Regions from separate parts of the Homo sapiens genome. Here region 1 is linked to region 2. A link means that fine-mapping ties the variant in region 2 to the expression of a gene that starts in the linked region. Tissue or cell type: amygdala. Region 2 holds a variant in brackets; the other region holds the start of a gene. All regions are shown on one strand. Distances are between the middles of the regions.

The links. PIP is the estimated chance that this variant, and not a neighbour inherited with it, causes the effect. A credible set is the group of variants that fine-mapping cannot tell apart.
Region 1: it holds the start of ADARB2-AS1, and the variant in region 2 is the best candidate, but not a certain one, in a credible set for the expression of ADARB2-AS1 in amygdala (GTEx, PIP 0.82).

The regions. Positions count from the first base shown.
Region 1 is chr10:1,522,669-1,530,849 of GRCh38, forward strand. ADARB2-AS1 (ADARB2 antisense RNA 1) reads left to right here and starts at 3,962. Exons shown (of 2, transcript NR_033387.2): 1 at 3,962-4,231. All of the region lies in intron 1 of ADARB2 (adenosine deaminase RNA specific B2 (inactive)), which reads right to left. RefSeq lists an enhancer at 6,850-7,849.
Region 2 is chr10:1,650,000-1,658,180 of GRCh38, forward strand. All of the region lies in intron 1 of ADARB2 (adenosine deaminase RNA specific B2 (inactive)), which reads right to left. Among named protein-coding and RNA genes, the nearest start is that of ADARB2, 83 kb to the right of the region's middle. The variant C/A (reference allele first, on the strand shown) is at 3,562.

The DNA of each region.
Region 1 (8,181 bases), 130 kb before region 2:
CTTCTCAGCAATCATTCCTCTCCTTCTTCCTTTGCCCGTTTATACGTTAGTTATTGAACTCGTGGATCTTAGCCCCATTTTTCAGTAGCCTCTAAAGACTGTTGCACTTCTACTTCTCAGAATACTTCCGAGGTCCTCAGAGGACAGCGTGCCTGCAGCTCAGGCCAGGCCCCTTCATGCTGGGCTCCAAGCTCACCATGGCTCCTAACCAGACACCTTGTTTGTGCCGCTCCAGTCCCCATGGCAGGAGCGACTCCTCTCTCTCACCAGTGCGAGGATCACAATGTTATTGCTTATAAAGCCCTTAAGCTCTCTTTCAGGTGAGTTTCAAATCGTTATCTCCTTACACCCAGCAGACAGATGTGAGTCCGCTGCTTGGTGACATCATCCTTTTGTTAGAAGAGCACCGACTCACGTTTCTATAGCAAATCGATAACACTATGTGACAAATCCAAAATCGACAATGGCTATTTCTTAGCTTTAGGTTTTATTTTTCTTCAGAGAGAAACAAGTATGGCAAATATCTGTGAATTTCTGTTTAATCTGATGACAAATTAATTAATAATGATAACAAATGGTTATCTACTTAGATATGTAACGTAGGCAGTGGAAGTAATATTTTATCCGAACATTAGAACCAAGATTTTGTGTAAGTGCAAGAGGACATAGTCTCCACCCCACTGTGTTACAGATCAGGAAGTTGGAGGTGGCTCGGTTACAGGGTTAAGTTACATGCACGTCACGCAGCCCTGAGCTGGGGAAACCAAGAACAAAGCCCCTATGCTTGCTGGGCCATCCCACCCCCTCACATTAGATTTGCTTAAAGAACCTGCCAGAGGCTTCGTCTGGAATAGCACCTCGGTCTCATTCATCTCTATCACGAGTTTCTGCATTTTGACCATGAGCCTGTTCCAACATTTCAGATTCTCCACTCATCATTAAAATAACTTTATTCCAACCTTGCAGCTTCCAAATTAATACTGACTCTTTCCTTATCAGAAACAAGCAATGATTTAGAGTATCACTGAAATAAAATCAAAATGTTTTACCTTGAGGCTTAATTCTCTCTAAAATCTAGTCAGATGCTCCCCATCCCAGTTTCACCATTATATCAGCACAAATCTTGAACATTTCATTTTCTAATCTGTCATCCTTTTAATCTCCTATTTTATAAATGCTCTTTTCTGTATAAATGGCCTGCATATTATAAACAGTATTGAATAGCTTGTTTCTTTCTCTAATCAACCTGATCTGTCTACTCAATATCCACCCATGCATCCATCCATCCATCCATCCATCTACTCATTCATTCACCTATTCATTTTTTAATTAAGCATTTCATTAATTTATTCAGCACTTACTATATTCTAGACAGTATCCTGGGGATATGAAGATAGATAGATAGATAGATAGATAGATAGATAGATAGATAGATTAGAGAGAGAGAGAATAGATGATAGGTAGATAATTCTTTGTCACTATCTTTAAGGTACACAAAATTTTGTAGGAGAGTCTGAGACATACAAACTTCTTATAATACAATGAATGTATTTGGTGCAATAGAGCAAAAATAGGGTCAGGACTTTATGACTACTAAGCCTCACAGGTGTTTTGATGCCTATGGAATCACCACATATAAGTCCCACTAATTCAGTCGCCATTTGTGACTAACGTGTCCAATACTCAGTAGGAAAGATATAAAAGAAAATAATTAGAGTTCCTTAATATCTCTTTGGTCCACCAGCAGGCATCCATGTTTGTGATCTTCTGGGCAATTTTCAGACCTGCTGGCATCACAAGTTCCTCCAACCAGACTTGGATAATGGGTCAATCAGCAAGAAGCACTTTTCCTGAGCCCAAGTTCTAAAACCTCCACAGCAACAGCCCTAATGAAAAATGTAGTATCTCCCACTTCTCCTTTCTATTGCCTTTTTGTTTGGTTTTCACAGGAATCTATTTCTGAGTGTTTGCTGTAGGCAGACACTTTCCTCATCTCCACCTTTGATTACGAGAACAGCACAGCCCGGTGGCTGCCCGGGGGGAGGTGGTAGGCAGGGTCAGAGTGCACACGCGCGTGTGTTCATGTGTGCTGTGTACAGGTGCTGTGAGGGTCCAGGAACTGCTGGCTATCACAGTGAGCGGTGACACAAAGGCCTGTAATTCTATGTTGAGAATAATATTTCCAGCCTAGAACTAGCAGTCTGGCTGGAATGAAATACACAGAAAATAGTCAGGATAGTCCAATCTATGTCTGAGCCTCCAGATTTAAAGATAGTTTATATCCACAAATACATACTGCTATGTCTTTTTACCTTTCCATTTTCACAGCTAGCTGCCAATTTAAGTAAGCATCCTTGCTTTAGTTAAGGGCTTTAGTAATAAAATAATAATAATAACTTCACGAACAGGAAGAGATTCTATAAATCCTGAGTTTCATGCCAGGAAACCACCCCAGAAAACACTTTTTGTACTAATAGCTGTAAAAAAAGGTCAGGTACCTGACTTAAATAATTGCTTTCCTTTTTGTATGTTTGGGGGAGGAGGAATTTCTGGTTCTACTTGTAACACGTGCATATGAGGTTACACAAAGATTTCTTTCCTGGAAAACTGGAAATAAGCATAATCAAAACTGTAAAATGATCAAATACTGGTGCAATTATTTTCTTCAGGAATCTCACGATTTCATCTGCGGGAGTGGATCTGAAATCTAAAATCTGAAAACATTTATTTCACTTTATGATTCTTTTTATTCCACATTCTTCTCTAATTTTTTCCTTGACTGAAACATTGGTATCTCTGTTTCTCATGGTCTCTCTTCGCCTCAGCCGTGCAGTTCTGTGGGTATCTAGGGGGCCTTTTCAGTTCAAAGTACATCAGCAGCCCGACGCTGGTGGTCCACGTTTTCCTGTCGGCTCTGTGGGTTGCATCTGTGTCCTGTTACCTCGGAGGGGTTGTATGTGCGTCCTGAGAGGAAGACAGCCTGGGAAGACAGGGTGGCTTGCAGAAGACGCCCACCATTTGCACAGAGCTAGCCGAGGCAGCTGGCCTGAACATGTGTGCATGCGTGTGCGTGCATGTATGGGTGTGTATGTGTATGCTCATGTGCTTGTGTGTTTATGTGTGTGTATGTGCGTATGTGAGCATGTACGTGTGTGCGCATGTGTATGTTCATGTGCTTGTGTGTGTGCGCGTGTCTGCGTGCGTTTATGTGCGTGTATGTGCATGTGTGTGAGCGTGTATGCTCATGTGCACGTGTGTCTGTGTGTGAGCACGTATGGGTGTGTGTGCGTGTGTGCTTATGTGCGTGTGTGCATGCATATATGTGCATGTGCATGTATGCACGTGTTTGTGTATGTGTGTATGCGTGCATGTGCATCTGTGTTGAGGGGCTGTTGCTCAGGAAGCGAGGGACAGGGCATGTCCTAGGTAGAGACAGCTTTCTGGGGAAAGCCTTGTTCTAAGGCAGCAGGGCGGTCTTGCACTTGCGCGGCTGCTCCTGGGATTTGGAAAGGACACAGGTGGGAAGTTGGAGAGATGGCCTGGGGCAGGTGGGGTAGGTGGGGCAGGTGGGGCAGATGGGGCAGGTGGTGCAGATGGGGCAGTCATTAACGAGCATGCCTGGAACCCCATCCCTAGTCTTGTAGAGGAGGCAAGGAGCTGTCCAACTGTCTCTTAAGAGTGGCACAGTCAGTGCTATGGTTTGGAGGTTTGTCCCCTCCAGATCTCATGTTGAAACGTGATCCCCAGTGTTGGAGGTGGGGCCTGGTGGGGGATGCTGGGGTCAGGGGTGGATCCCTCACGATTATCTTGGTGCTGTCCTCCTGGTTATGAATGAGTTCTTGCTCTGTGTGTTGCAGTGAGAGCTGATTGGTAGGAAGAGCCTGGCCCCTCCCACCGCCTCTCCCACCACGTGATCTCTGCACAGGCCGCTCCCCTCCCCATCGGCCACGAGTGAAGCTTCCTGGGGCCTCACCAGATGCAGATGCTGGTGCCACGCTTCCTGTACAGCCTGCAGAGCCATGGCTGCACAAACCTTTCTTCCTCATAAATCACCCAGCCTCGGGTGTTCCTTTCTAGCAACACACACGGACTGAGCCGGATGACATGAAGCAGCTGTTCCCGCCTCCTCCTGGCACCTCCCTGACTCACGCACTTGGTGCGTGGAGGGGTCGTGAGCGGGCACAGGCAGCCACTTCGCTGCTTGCCTCATCAGCCTCACAGTTCCCCACAGGTGAGTCCTGGCATAGAAACATCCCCTGCATCTTAATTTGCATTTGTTAATAATTATGTGAAATAGAGAAAATAACTTATTTGTGCACAGCTCTGACTTCCAAACGAAACCACTCCAGCTTTTTGGAAGCTTCCGCATTTGGGGATGATATTAACCAAGTGACCACAGACGAGAGAGGCACTGCCCTTCTCTTTAACCCAGAAACTGGTCAGGAGCCTGAGGAGAATGACAAAGGGAAAGAATTCTTACAGGAACTTCTCCCTCCGCTTCCCTCAGTTTAAAACTACAGTGCTCGCCACAGAATCTCACTTCCAATTCCTTGTGGAGAACTGCTTCTTGTACTTATCGCATCCTCATTTACGATATGACTCTGCTAGTATTTTAAATACATGTCTAGCGTTCCTTATAGAGACATTCTCATCCCCACATAGATCGGTGGTTATGAGGGAGTTTTCTTTCCTATGCCTAGGATTCTGTTTTGATGATTTTTACGGGGTTTGCTTACAGTAGTAACTCAGCAAACTGCCTGATGATATTTAAAAACTTCTTCCTCCTTGATTTTCATTTTAAATCAAGCAAACACAATAATCCACAAAAACTAAATTAAAATCAATGCCCTTAACATGACTGGCAAGAAGAATGCTGTTTCTGTTGTAAGAAGACTTGCTATACATAACAGGATGATTAGAAAGACTTGCTGTAAAAAGACTTGATATACATAACAGGATGATATACATAACAGGATGATTAGAAAGTTAAAAATATAATATTGTGAGATGCTATTTGGTTTGGTAAGACGGGGGTCAGATAGTCTATCAGAATAATTTTCTTCCGTTTGATCACACATCTCATCAGAGGAGCAGGAGAGCCGTCCAGCGTGAGATATTTGAAGGGGTGTTGGCAAGAACATCAGATGGACGACAGGGGAGAGGGGCCCAGCTGCACGGGGAGAAGCCGATGAGGGATGGGTCTTTGCTGTCATCAACATTCATAAATTTATCATTCTGGATGCACAAATTAAAATTATTCACTAAGCAAGAATGCCATTGAACTGAACGTTATAAAAATCCTGGAGTAAGTAGAAAAATGCCAGGCTGATATATCTGTGCAGTAAGAGGCATATAATTCTGCCTCCATCAATAACAGCCCCCACACTTTATGGACTCCCCTCTTGGAGGTGGCTGTGAATAACCCGAATGCATGTGCAGCCTCTCGACAAACTCGTGTCCGCGGCTGTGGGCTACGTTCTCGCCAATGGCTGTGTCTTCGGCCAACACACCTGAGCTTACTGCATTAATGTTACTGTGCGATACAGCAGCTCCGCGCCTCCTGTGAGTGCCCGTGTTCACTTCCTAAACTGCTGGTCTACCCAGATTTTTAAAGGGACATATCAAATACTGTTCCTCCATTTCTGGTTCCTTTCAAGCTGCGTTGGTATCGATGTTTGGAACCCCTGGCCACATTTCATATTTATGTAACTGATCTGACAGTGCACGTGAATCTATGAGCAGTTACTTATTGAGTCCCTGCTGTATGTGAGGCTCTCAGGAAGGACTTATGGATGCGCCAAAGTACTGCTGATGATAATGGTGTGAGGAACACACTTTTACTCCTGTTTTATAGAGGTAAACCGTGGTATAGAATTTCACGTTACTTGTCTGAGGTCTTTGGTCATCCCAGCAGCGCCCGGTGTGAGCCCTCTCAAGTTCTCCATGGTTTTCCCATCACCCACACCCCTCCTGTCATGCTGGTTGATGGCACTCTTGCCCGTTGGGTGAGAAAGCCCTTTCCTGGACAGGTGATGCCCTTTGTAGTGAAAACAGTTAGATGCTGTCATGTTTGGTCAGAAGCTGAACCACAGATTTTAGAATGAGGCAATGATGGCCTGAGAGGGAAGTGGATTCTGTTGACACCAGCAGAATGTGTGGAATTGGGATTTTGAAAGTGTATTTACCCAGTGGCATGTGGTCCCAAGCGGGATCTGCCCTCTATGAGCTCCAGACTGGACTCGTCCTGCCCCTGTGGTCTGTCCCTTCCTAGGTTCCCACGGTTCTCTCTTTCCCCACAATGTAGCTTTGCTTTGGACTAGTTTTTGGGACAAGATGTTGCTTGTGAGGTGGGTCTGACTGCAGGAGCCAAGCAGCACCACCCCAACAAATCCTCCAATCAGTCCACCCACCATGCCCAACACCAATCCTCCAATCAGTCCACGCACCATCCCCAACACAAATCCTCCAATCAGTCCACGCACCATCCCCAACACAAATCCTCCAATCAGTCCACGCACCATGCCCAACACCAATCCTCCAATCAGTCCACGCACCATCCCCAACACAAATCCTCCAATCAGTCCACGCACCATGCCCAACACCAATCCTCCAATCAGTCCATGCACCATCCCCAACACAAATCCTCCAATAAGTCCATGCACCATCCCCAACACAAATCCTCCAATCAGTCCATGCACCATGCCCAACACTGCGAGTCCCCCACAGATTGAGGGGGAAGATTAGGGAAGGCGAGGACCTGAGAAATCTGACTCCCTGGGGTCATCAGCACCCACGAGACATCTGCCTGAATCCGCCCCTGCACAGTAGCTATGGCCATCCTTGGCCCTGGGCCCCACACCCTTCCACTCTTCCGATGCAACGTCACCTCTCCTGTGACCCCTTCCATAGTTTTCCCCTCACCGACACCCTTATCACCAGATTCTAAACATTTTCAAATCTCCCCCATTTAAAAAATAGCCCTTGTTGGAGCCCCTCTGCCCCTGCAACTCAGTAGCTTCCACGGGAGGGGGAGGCTTCCCCAGGAGACAGAATGATGTCAGCAGAAACTATTGGTTGTGAGACTTGCGGGCAGTGCTGCTGCATGTAGAGGGCAGAGTTCAGGGGCACGCGCAGGGCAAAGGACAGGGTATCTCCACCACCAGTGCATGGCTGGGAAGCCGCTCTCTGCTCCCCTGTGACTGCGGGCACACGTCCACTGCCCCCTGCCACCACGGACACCCATCCACTGAACCCTGCCACTGCAGGGACCCATTCACTGCCCCTGCCACTGTGGGCACCCATCCACTGCTCCTGCCACTGTGGGCACCCGTCAACTGTCCCTGTCAATGTGGGCACCTGTCCACTACCTCATGCCACCATGGGCGCCTATCCACTGCTTCTGCCAGTGCTGGTACCTGTCCACTGCCCCTGCCAATGCGGGCACCCACCCACTGCTCCTGCCACCTTGGGCACCCGTCCACTGCCTCGTGCCTTTCTCCTCTGCTCACCTGTTGCCCCTGCTATGGGATGTGGAGCATGCAGCCGAGTTGCCCGACCGAAACGCCCCTCTCAGAGCTCAGTGAGGGTCTCCCTCCTGGCACCCAGGTGAAGGGACATTGTTCAGACCTCATCCTGCATGGCCTCTGCCCCAAGGCCTCCCACACCCACAACATTCCCTCCTCCTGAAACACTTGCGTCCTGGGTTTCCTCATCCAGTTTCCAAACCCAGCACCCGGGCCACAGTCACTTCGTCCTCCTTTCTCCAGCCTGCCAGGTCCTCGTGAGTGCGTCTCACTGAATTCTCTCTCTGCACGGCCACTGCTTCAGCCAGGGTCACGTGGCCTCTGTGGGAGCCACAGGACGAGACTCCTTGCGGCCTGCTCTTCATGCGGAGCCTGAGTGGGCTTTTCTGTTCATCAGCCTCGTCCGCCCCTGCGCCCAAAGCCCTCCATGCACACCGACCGCTTGTCGGTTTCTAGACAAGATCCGTTTAGAAACAGTATGTGGGCACCCCATACTCTCCAAACTCCTCTCAAGTCATGGCCCACACTCTCCCTGCTCACGGCATCTCTGGGTTCTCTCTCCAGCTCACTGAACTTGTTTCGCATGTATGCCTTTGCCTTGAGGCTTGCTCCCCTTCAACTCTGGAAACCCACTTGTCACTCAGCACTCAGGTCTCAG
Region 2 (8,181 bases):
ATACCTTTTCATAACTACAAACCCTCCCTGAAGGTCTTCCCAAGGTGAAATATCCAAGAACAAGTAGACTGTATTTGCTCTTGCTGTTGTTCCCCATGGTGGACGCTTGCCATAAATATGGTGGTGGTGTCTGCAAGACTGGCTACGTTCATGACTGCTCTCACATGCTTTTCTGAAGCATAGATTAAGTGGCAGCTCTACAAAGAGTGAGATTTATAGCCTAGTTTATGTTTTTTGGGGGTAAGAAATTCTTCAGTGTTTCTAGAAGCTACTTAACCTTGGTTGATGTCACTTAAAGGAGAGGAAAATTCTGGGTTTGCAAGGGGAGCCTCCTGGTGTTTTGAGTAGGTCAGCATCCACATTACCAGATGGTAAAGACACTTTGCTAGGACCTTTGACAAGCTAAGTACTCGAGGGGCTGTGATACTGAAGGGGGTGGAGAATGGAGGTGGCTCATAAATAATGTGGTGCTGGTAGGCTGCAGCCCAGACATGACCACAGCGCAGGGAAACGCACCTCCGCCAGTCTTGGCGAACTTCACAGCACCTTCCCATACAAAAGTGGCAGATACTGATCTAACTGCATCAGAAGTCCTTGCTATCGGTCCGTGAAAGGTCTAAGTTAATCTGTCCCTTACTATCTTAAATTAAACGGGCACATGACTCCACCGACCGTCCACGAGGTCTTTCCTGGAGTGAAGCTTTAATTCTCTGTCCGCCCACTGCAGTCCCGGATAGGGGAGTAAGAAGGTCTGACAGTTAATGACACTTGAGGAAGATGTGCGTGCCTGGAGCTTCTCAGCAGTGGGACATTTGCCCCTAGCAGAGGGTCGAGGGACACTGGCAAATGCTGACGTGGATGTAGCACGGTCACCAAAACCCCGCGTGTCCGAGATGGTGGAGCAGCTTTTCCCGGCTCATGTGAGGGCTGGCCAGCCACACAGCACCAGGCTGACTTTAGCAGCTTGGTCTCCCAAGCCGAGGCTATCTGAAGGACACCAGAGAGCTGCGTTTCTCCTTCTGTGCCAAGGTGAACACACAACGCTTCAGATGTTCCGCTCTCCCCTCGTGAGACAGACGGCCCGGCTTCTGTGTGGCTTTGGGGATGGGAGTGCCAGTCACTGGCCACAGAATGACAAATTGCCTCCCTGCCAATATCAGAGCAGGGACAGTTCTCGCCACAGCGTCCTCCAGATGGGCCCAATTAAACTATTAGCCAATGAGCAAGGTCTGATGGCTCCATTAGGAACCACCCTGTGCTTAAATAAACAGCTCAGAATACATAGTTTCTCCATCGAGCCCTGGCTCGGCGAAGGCCCCATCTGGGCAAGGTCTCCAAGGTTGGCCCTGGCGAGCCCCAGGGGGTGTTGGGGTGGCTGGGGCAGGCCGCCCTCCCTGGTTCTCAGGGTCCTGCAAGCCACACCGCAGTGGGTGATGTGAGAGAGGGGGCAGCACCCCCACCTGCCATGGCCAGGGCCAAGTTCTCCACCAGCTGCACCCCTTTGCTTGTGCACGCCTAGACAACCACACTCCCTGACTGGATGGAACTTCCAGAACCAGCCCCTGACCTCAGCACACTAGTCCCTTGCCAGCTGTCTTTCCCACATACAGAAATTTCAGGCCCGTGCTGTTTGGCTGTTCATCATTTGTAATTACTGCCAAGCAAGGGGCACATTTCGTGCAGAATAAATGAAGACAGCAGACAGCGAAGCGGGGCCTTACTGCCTGAGCGTGGTGGGCGTGACTCTCGGGGGGAGCGGGGGCTGCCTGCTTATGGGTGCTGCTTTCTCTCTGCCCGTGAAGGTGACCATCACACAGGCCCAGGGCCCCTCAGGGCTCTTCTCACCCCCACACGACCCAGGGTTGGTTCCCAGTGGGAGCAGAGCCTGCCCAGGAGAGACCGCTATCTCCACTGGTCCAGCTTACACAAAGATCCATCGAAAAGCATCAGTTCTTGAGAAAAACGACACTATAAATAAAATGGTTTTCAATACAGAGAGCTGGGCTCCATCAACCCTGCTGAGATCCTTGGGGACGGGGCTGCGCCTTTCTCTTTGTGATTATGGTCACTGTATTCCAGTAATTTGGGTGAACTCTGATTGGCCATCCAATATCTTTGATGTTCTAGGAGGTCACACACTGCAAAAAGCAAAGCGGGTCTGTCCCCTGCTTGCTTCTATTGGGAGGGGCCACCTCACGCCCTGCAGCACAGCCCTGGCCAGTGACAGCTCAGCATGGCTGCCCAGTCTCAGCTTTTAACTGGGGCATCTGTTCTGCAAATGCTCCTGAGCACCCACTGTGCACCGGCCCTGCTAGGGACGTAGCAGTGACCAGGACTGCCAAGGCCCCTACTGGGTTTAATTCATTCCGTGTAATCTCAGGCTGCTGCCAGCTCCCGGGAAGACCAAGCCATCTGTGCTCCTCCCGGGAGCATCCCACTTCCTTTCCAGAGCTCGGGGCTCACCTTTTGGATTCTGTCCTCCTACCACTGACATCTGCTCTTAGGGGAGGAAGAGAAACTTCCTCGGGGGGCAAATGAGAAATAGCTAATTTGTGCGGTGTGCAAAAGAAAGTCATTGCTTGCTAGAATTGTTGCTATGATTTTTCCTTATTCATTAATTTCCTTTTGCTACTGGGTAGCATATTGTTGTTCTTGGTTTGTGTTGACCTTTTCAGTCCTCATGAAAACAAGCCGTCCTGAGGCAGGCCTTCTTTGCACAGGTCAGCATCAGCAAGGAAGGCTCATTACCCATTTTTAATGCAGTTAGATGGTGCTGAACTTGACTGTGTGCTTTCACTCCAAGATTTGCCCTCTTATCACCCCCCAAGACTAAGGTCTTGGCCTAGGACTGATAAACAAACCAGCCGATCCGTGACAGTGATGGAAGGGTGCGTGTGTGCAGAGTTGGGGGGCATGCACGCTTTCTCTGCTCTACTCCTCTTCTGCCAAGGCCAGTGTCCTCCCTGAGATGCCAAGCCCCTCAGACGATGGAGGCCTCCTCCCCCCTGGGATCCTGATGACAACCATCTCAGGCACCCAATCACAGAGTGCTTGGAAATGGCCACTTAGAGCTTCCCTGCAAAAGGGTGGCTGATCCCAATGTGAGGCTGTTGTTGTCTCCAAGGGCCACCTTCCCACGGAGGTGACTTGCACGAGGGTGTCAGCGTCCAGGGGAAATATGGGGCTGCTGCCACAGCCTAGAGACAGACAGGAGATGGCGAGGAGGGAGACTGGTGCCCAGGCGCTGGCTTGCCTGGGGTCCCAGTCATGGCAGAAGGACTTGGGGAGACAGCATGGAACAGGAATCCCTGCTCAGAGCTGCTGTTGAGACACAGAAAGAACCTCCCTTGCTGGTGTCTGGCAGAGGGTGTTGATGACAGTCCAGGGGCATGAAGAGGCTGGGGTTTGAGGCTGCTGTAGGCTCTGTGGGGTCCCAGGAATGTTGGGGGGCCCAGGAATGTGCCCACTTTCAATCTTGGTCAGCGCTCTCCACCCGACGCCTTGTGTGCCTGCAGAGCCGCAGTCTCCACCAGACGCCTCGTGTGCCTGCAGAGCCACAGT[C/A]TCCACCCCACGCCTCATGTGCCTGCAGAGCCACAGTCTCCACCCAACGCCTTCTGTGCCTGCAGAGCCGCAGTGTCCACCCAACACCTTCTGTGCCTGCAGAGCCGCAGGGTCTGGGTTTTGTGGCACCACATGTTCGGTCTCATCTCCTCCCAAATCCTGTTAAATTTCCCTGAATTTAGGACCAGGCCCAATGCCATGGACACAGTAGACCCTCAATAAATGAGTAATCAAATTGATGGTGAAGAACTGATTTTTTTTCCTGTTAACCCTCCCTAGCAGGGTTTTTATTAATGGGGTTTTCAGCAGCTTGCGATTGAAAGGCCGCCTTGCCCCAGGGTACAATGAAGTCAGGACCCCCAGGAGGGAGGCTCCGTGTGGCTGGGGGAGGGGAGTAACAGAATGAGCATAAAATCGCAGGGAGATGCCCCACAGCTGCCCCGGGGGTCCTGGGGGCTGGCTCTGTGGAGGTAGAGGAGCAGAGGTGCCTTCAGCATCCGATGCTCCTGCCTGTGTCTGGGTCTCCTCTCCACGCCTGCTCCTTCCCCATCACCCTGTTCTCTGTGGCCATTGCAGGTGTTGTAAGCCACATCAAATCCACTTGAAATGGGGTGAAATGAATCTACCAATACCTGAATCAGTCAGTAGCAACCTGAGGTGATCATGTAGTTTTCTGGTTGCCTGAGGCTTGCATTTCAGGCTCAGCTTCAACAGGTTCCAGTGGCCATGGGGACAGGAAGTGCACGCCTCCCCCGAGGGTCTTAGCTCACCCAAGGCTGCAGTGTGAGGGCCACATTTCCTGGGGGCCACCCCATGGCACTGGCTACCCCAGGGGTGCTGAGACAGGCCTGTTCCTGGAGACCACCTAGACCCTCCAATATCACCTGCTTCTGTCTAAGCTCTGAAATCCCCTTCCGGCGTGGTGGTGCCTCCCCTGTGCAGCCCCACCCAGAACCCCTCTTTCCACCTGTGCAGTGTGCCCCAGCTTCCCCGCAGGGTGGCAGTTCAGGGCTCACTCCCCAGCTTCCCACTTACTGCCCACCTACCCCTCTAGACAGAGGTTCTGCCAGGGCGGGGCTTTCCTGTTTCCTTTGGTTCTGTCAGATCCCAGCATGGACCGATCCCGAAGTGCAGTCCCTCAGAGGGTGGAGTGGGCATTTATGTGGGCTATTTGGTAATGGCAGCAATGTCGCCTCTCCCTGACGACTCTACCAGGTTGGCCCTGCATGCTTCTGTGTGCTGCAGGTGAGCTTGGCTCATGGCTGCTGATCACTGCAGCCCCTTCCCAGCCACACGCCAGGCCCAAGGTGATGCATGCTGGGCCATGCCAGGCACCTGTGATGAAATGCTCAGTTGTGTGAAGGTGCTGGCCAGCCCACGAGAGCTGGAATGCCAGAGTCACATTCAGTTACAAGGTGGAGCCATCAGCACAGCAGGCAGGCGTGAGGGTGAGGACGCGGTCGGGAGGAATCTCACTTCCCCTGCAGACCCTTGGGAGAGATGCAGGGGACACAGGGCGAGGACTGGGAGGTGAGGTTCCAGCAGGGGCAGGGTTAGCCCTGCATGGGGCCTTTCCTTGAGGTTTCTCTGTAGGGTGTCCCCTGAGCCCTGAGGCCACACCCCTTGGCTGCTGAACCTGCCTGTGCTATGACAGTTCATTGTCCTGGACAATAAGGCACTAGAACAGAGGGGGTGTTGATAATTAAGCCAAGCTCCATGCTGTGGAAAGCGGGTGCCCACTCAACACCCCAGGGTCTAAGGGGACGTGGCAGGTTTCACTCCCAGACTGGCCCTAATGCAGAAGAGAAGGGAGAAACCACCAGGTTCCCACATTGCCATCCAGGCATCTTTTCCGGGCTGAGTTTTCTGCAAGGCTTGTCGGGTCCATCAGAGGTAAAAACTGCAACGCACACCTAATTATACCTAATTTGCTATTGATTAACTATTTATTCTAACAGAACCACTGTAAAACTGTCCTGTGTGTTTAACTATCAAAATAAAGGAGTGCTGGCACCTTCTGCATTTTCAAACATTCTATGCTCTAGGTCAAAGTTCAGCATTTTTATTGACTCTAAACAGGAGATGGAAAACCACATTAGAAAAAGTGGAATTAAAAAAAAAAAGAAAACTGGAAATGCCTTTTTATTAGAAAATGGCCTCATGGGCATGGCTGGCTTTCAGGAGTAAGTTCATGGAGGATCCCTTTTGATGTGTCAGTACTGGAACAAGCGAGGTTTTGAGTATTTTCAGTAGCATCTTTGTTCAAAGTTAATCTTGTGGATATCAAACCACCTCTTGGAAGGAGGAAGAATATCTATTTTCATGTTTACATTACAAAAGAGCTTATAAATTAGTGGGTTTCACTAAAAGTTGTATTGAAGTAAGCTGTGGGTTTTGTGTGAGGTGTGAGGTGTGCCCACACACCTATATATCTCGTTTATCTAGCTTCATCCAGACAAAACAGTGTTCACATTTAATTTTTCAGATAACTGAAATAAAGCTGTCTAAGAGTAAAGTCTTTATAAAATTGTAAGCACTTTTATTAATGCACTTCTGGGATATTTTTCTTACTCCCCCTGCTTTTGAAAACAGAAACTACATCATAACGTAATCTTTTAAAGGTACTACATCGCCAAAATGGGCATCAATTAAAACCCTGGAAAGTAACTTTGAAATAATCCCCCTTGTGTTAGTAGAACAATGTATGCTCATCTGGGGCCTCAGATGACGTCGAACCTAGGGACTCATGGCGTCTCCTCCACCAGGAATCCCTGCCAGCCTCCCAGGGTCCACGTGTAATTCTACTTTTCTCTTCTGCCATGACTCCTAGCCCAAAGACAAATACTTCTTTGCAATCTCATATTGTGCTAATTTTACAACATCTGATATTTTTGGGGTGGTATTAGATAGCTTCACTTTCATACTGGTTGAGAGGTTGGGGGAAAGAGAGAGAGGGAAAGAGAGAAAAAGGGAGAGAGAGAGAGAGAGAGCTGCTAATAATATACAACTCTATTCCTCTAGTGCGTGGTCTTGTGAATGACGCACACTTGTTGCATAAAAGGCCTTTCTCTTCATATTGGGGTGTTGGCTATGACTTGAGATTTGGGACTCTCACGCGTCTTCATGTGGGATGTGCCAGCTTTGACTCTGTGACTAGAACTGACTTCTTTAGGCCAATGTGCTCAAAGATAATAATGGTAATTAATCTTTTTTTAATGTGCCTATTATATATGGGAAGGTTATCTTAAAATTAAAATTATCTTCAAGGCTTATTTATCCTGTTGCCCAGAGAATGCTGTGGATTTTTTTTCCATGCCATGAAGTAGAGGCATTAGGATGGGCCAGAAAAAAACAAAGCAAATTCCTTCAAAGATAAGATACTTTAAGTTGAAAAATCAAGGAACTCTCTCTTCCTAAAGCAGTGGTACCCATCTAGTGTTTTGTGTGTGTGTGTGTGTGTGTGTGTGTGGTGTTTAACAAAAGTTCTCATAAAACTTAGGGTTTCTGATTAACTCAGTGATGCCAAATTCTATTTTTTTTTTCCACAACGTACACCATAGAAAGCATGCAGCCTTGTGAAAAGTTCGAAAAGAGGTCTTCAGATTCAGAGTCTCCAGGTGGCCAATTTCTTCTGATCTAGATTTTCAAAAAAGTATGAAAGCAGCAAAAAGTTATTAAGCAAAGCTCAATGGCACAGCTCAACTTCAGTACGTTGCTTCTTGTAGTACTGCAAATTCTAATTAATGGCTTGCTCATTGCACACAGGAAGTGAGATTTAGCCTAGGGAAAAGAAAGCAAGGAGTAACTCAAGGAATTTGATAAATCATATTTTTTTATGTTTAAAATTCCTTCTTTTTAAAAGCGGTGAAAATGTAACACTTTCTCTTCCTCTTACTGGAAATTTTCAAATAATTTTGTCTTTCCTCCTCTCTTGGCCTCAGACAGATTATGGAGATAATGCACTCACCATCTCTCTCCCCTCTGAAGCCACGGTTTCCTGAAGGTCTCCCATTTCTGGAGTCTCTCGAGGCCTCCAACAGAAGGCAGCATCTCCTGTGCTGCAGGCGGTTACCAAGTAACAGACCTCAGAAGCCTTCCAAGGTCCAAGGATGTAAATGCAGTATGTCCTCTAAGCCGAGCGCAGGGTGCTGGAATCCGAGAGCCAGGGGCCATGGTGAGAGCTTCCTTTGCTGGGAGGCATGGATGGGATGAACTCCCTGGAGGTGGAAGGGCAGCCTCCCTCCCGGTCTTTCTCTCCTGTCTCTCCCTCTCTATCTCTGTCTCTGATTCTCTCTCTTTCTCTCTGCTCTCAGTTTCTCTCTGGTTCTGTTTCTCCCCGTCTCTGTCTCTCTTTATCTGATTCTCTGTCTCTCTTTATCTGATTCTCTGTCTGTGTCTGCCTCAGTCTCTCTCTATCTCAGTCTCTCTCTCTCTTTCTGTGTCTCTCTGTCTCTTATCTGATCCTGTGTGTGTCTGTGTATCTCTTCTGTCTCTACTGTCTCTCTCTGTGTCTCTGTGTCTCTCTGTCTGATTCTCTCTCTCTGTCTCTATCTGATTCTGTCTGATGCTGTCTCTCTCTCTCTCTGTATCTTATTCTCCCTGTCTCTCTCTGTGTCTCTC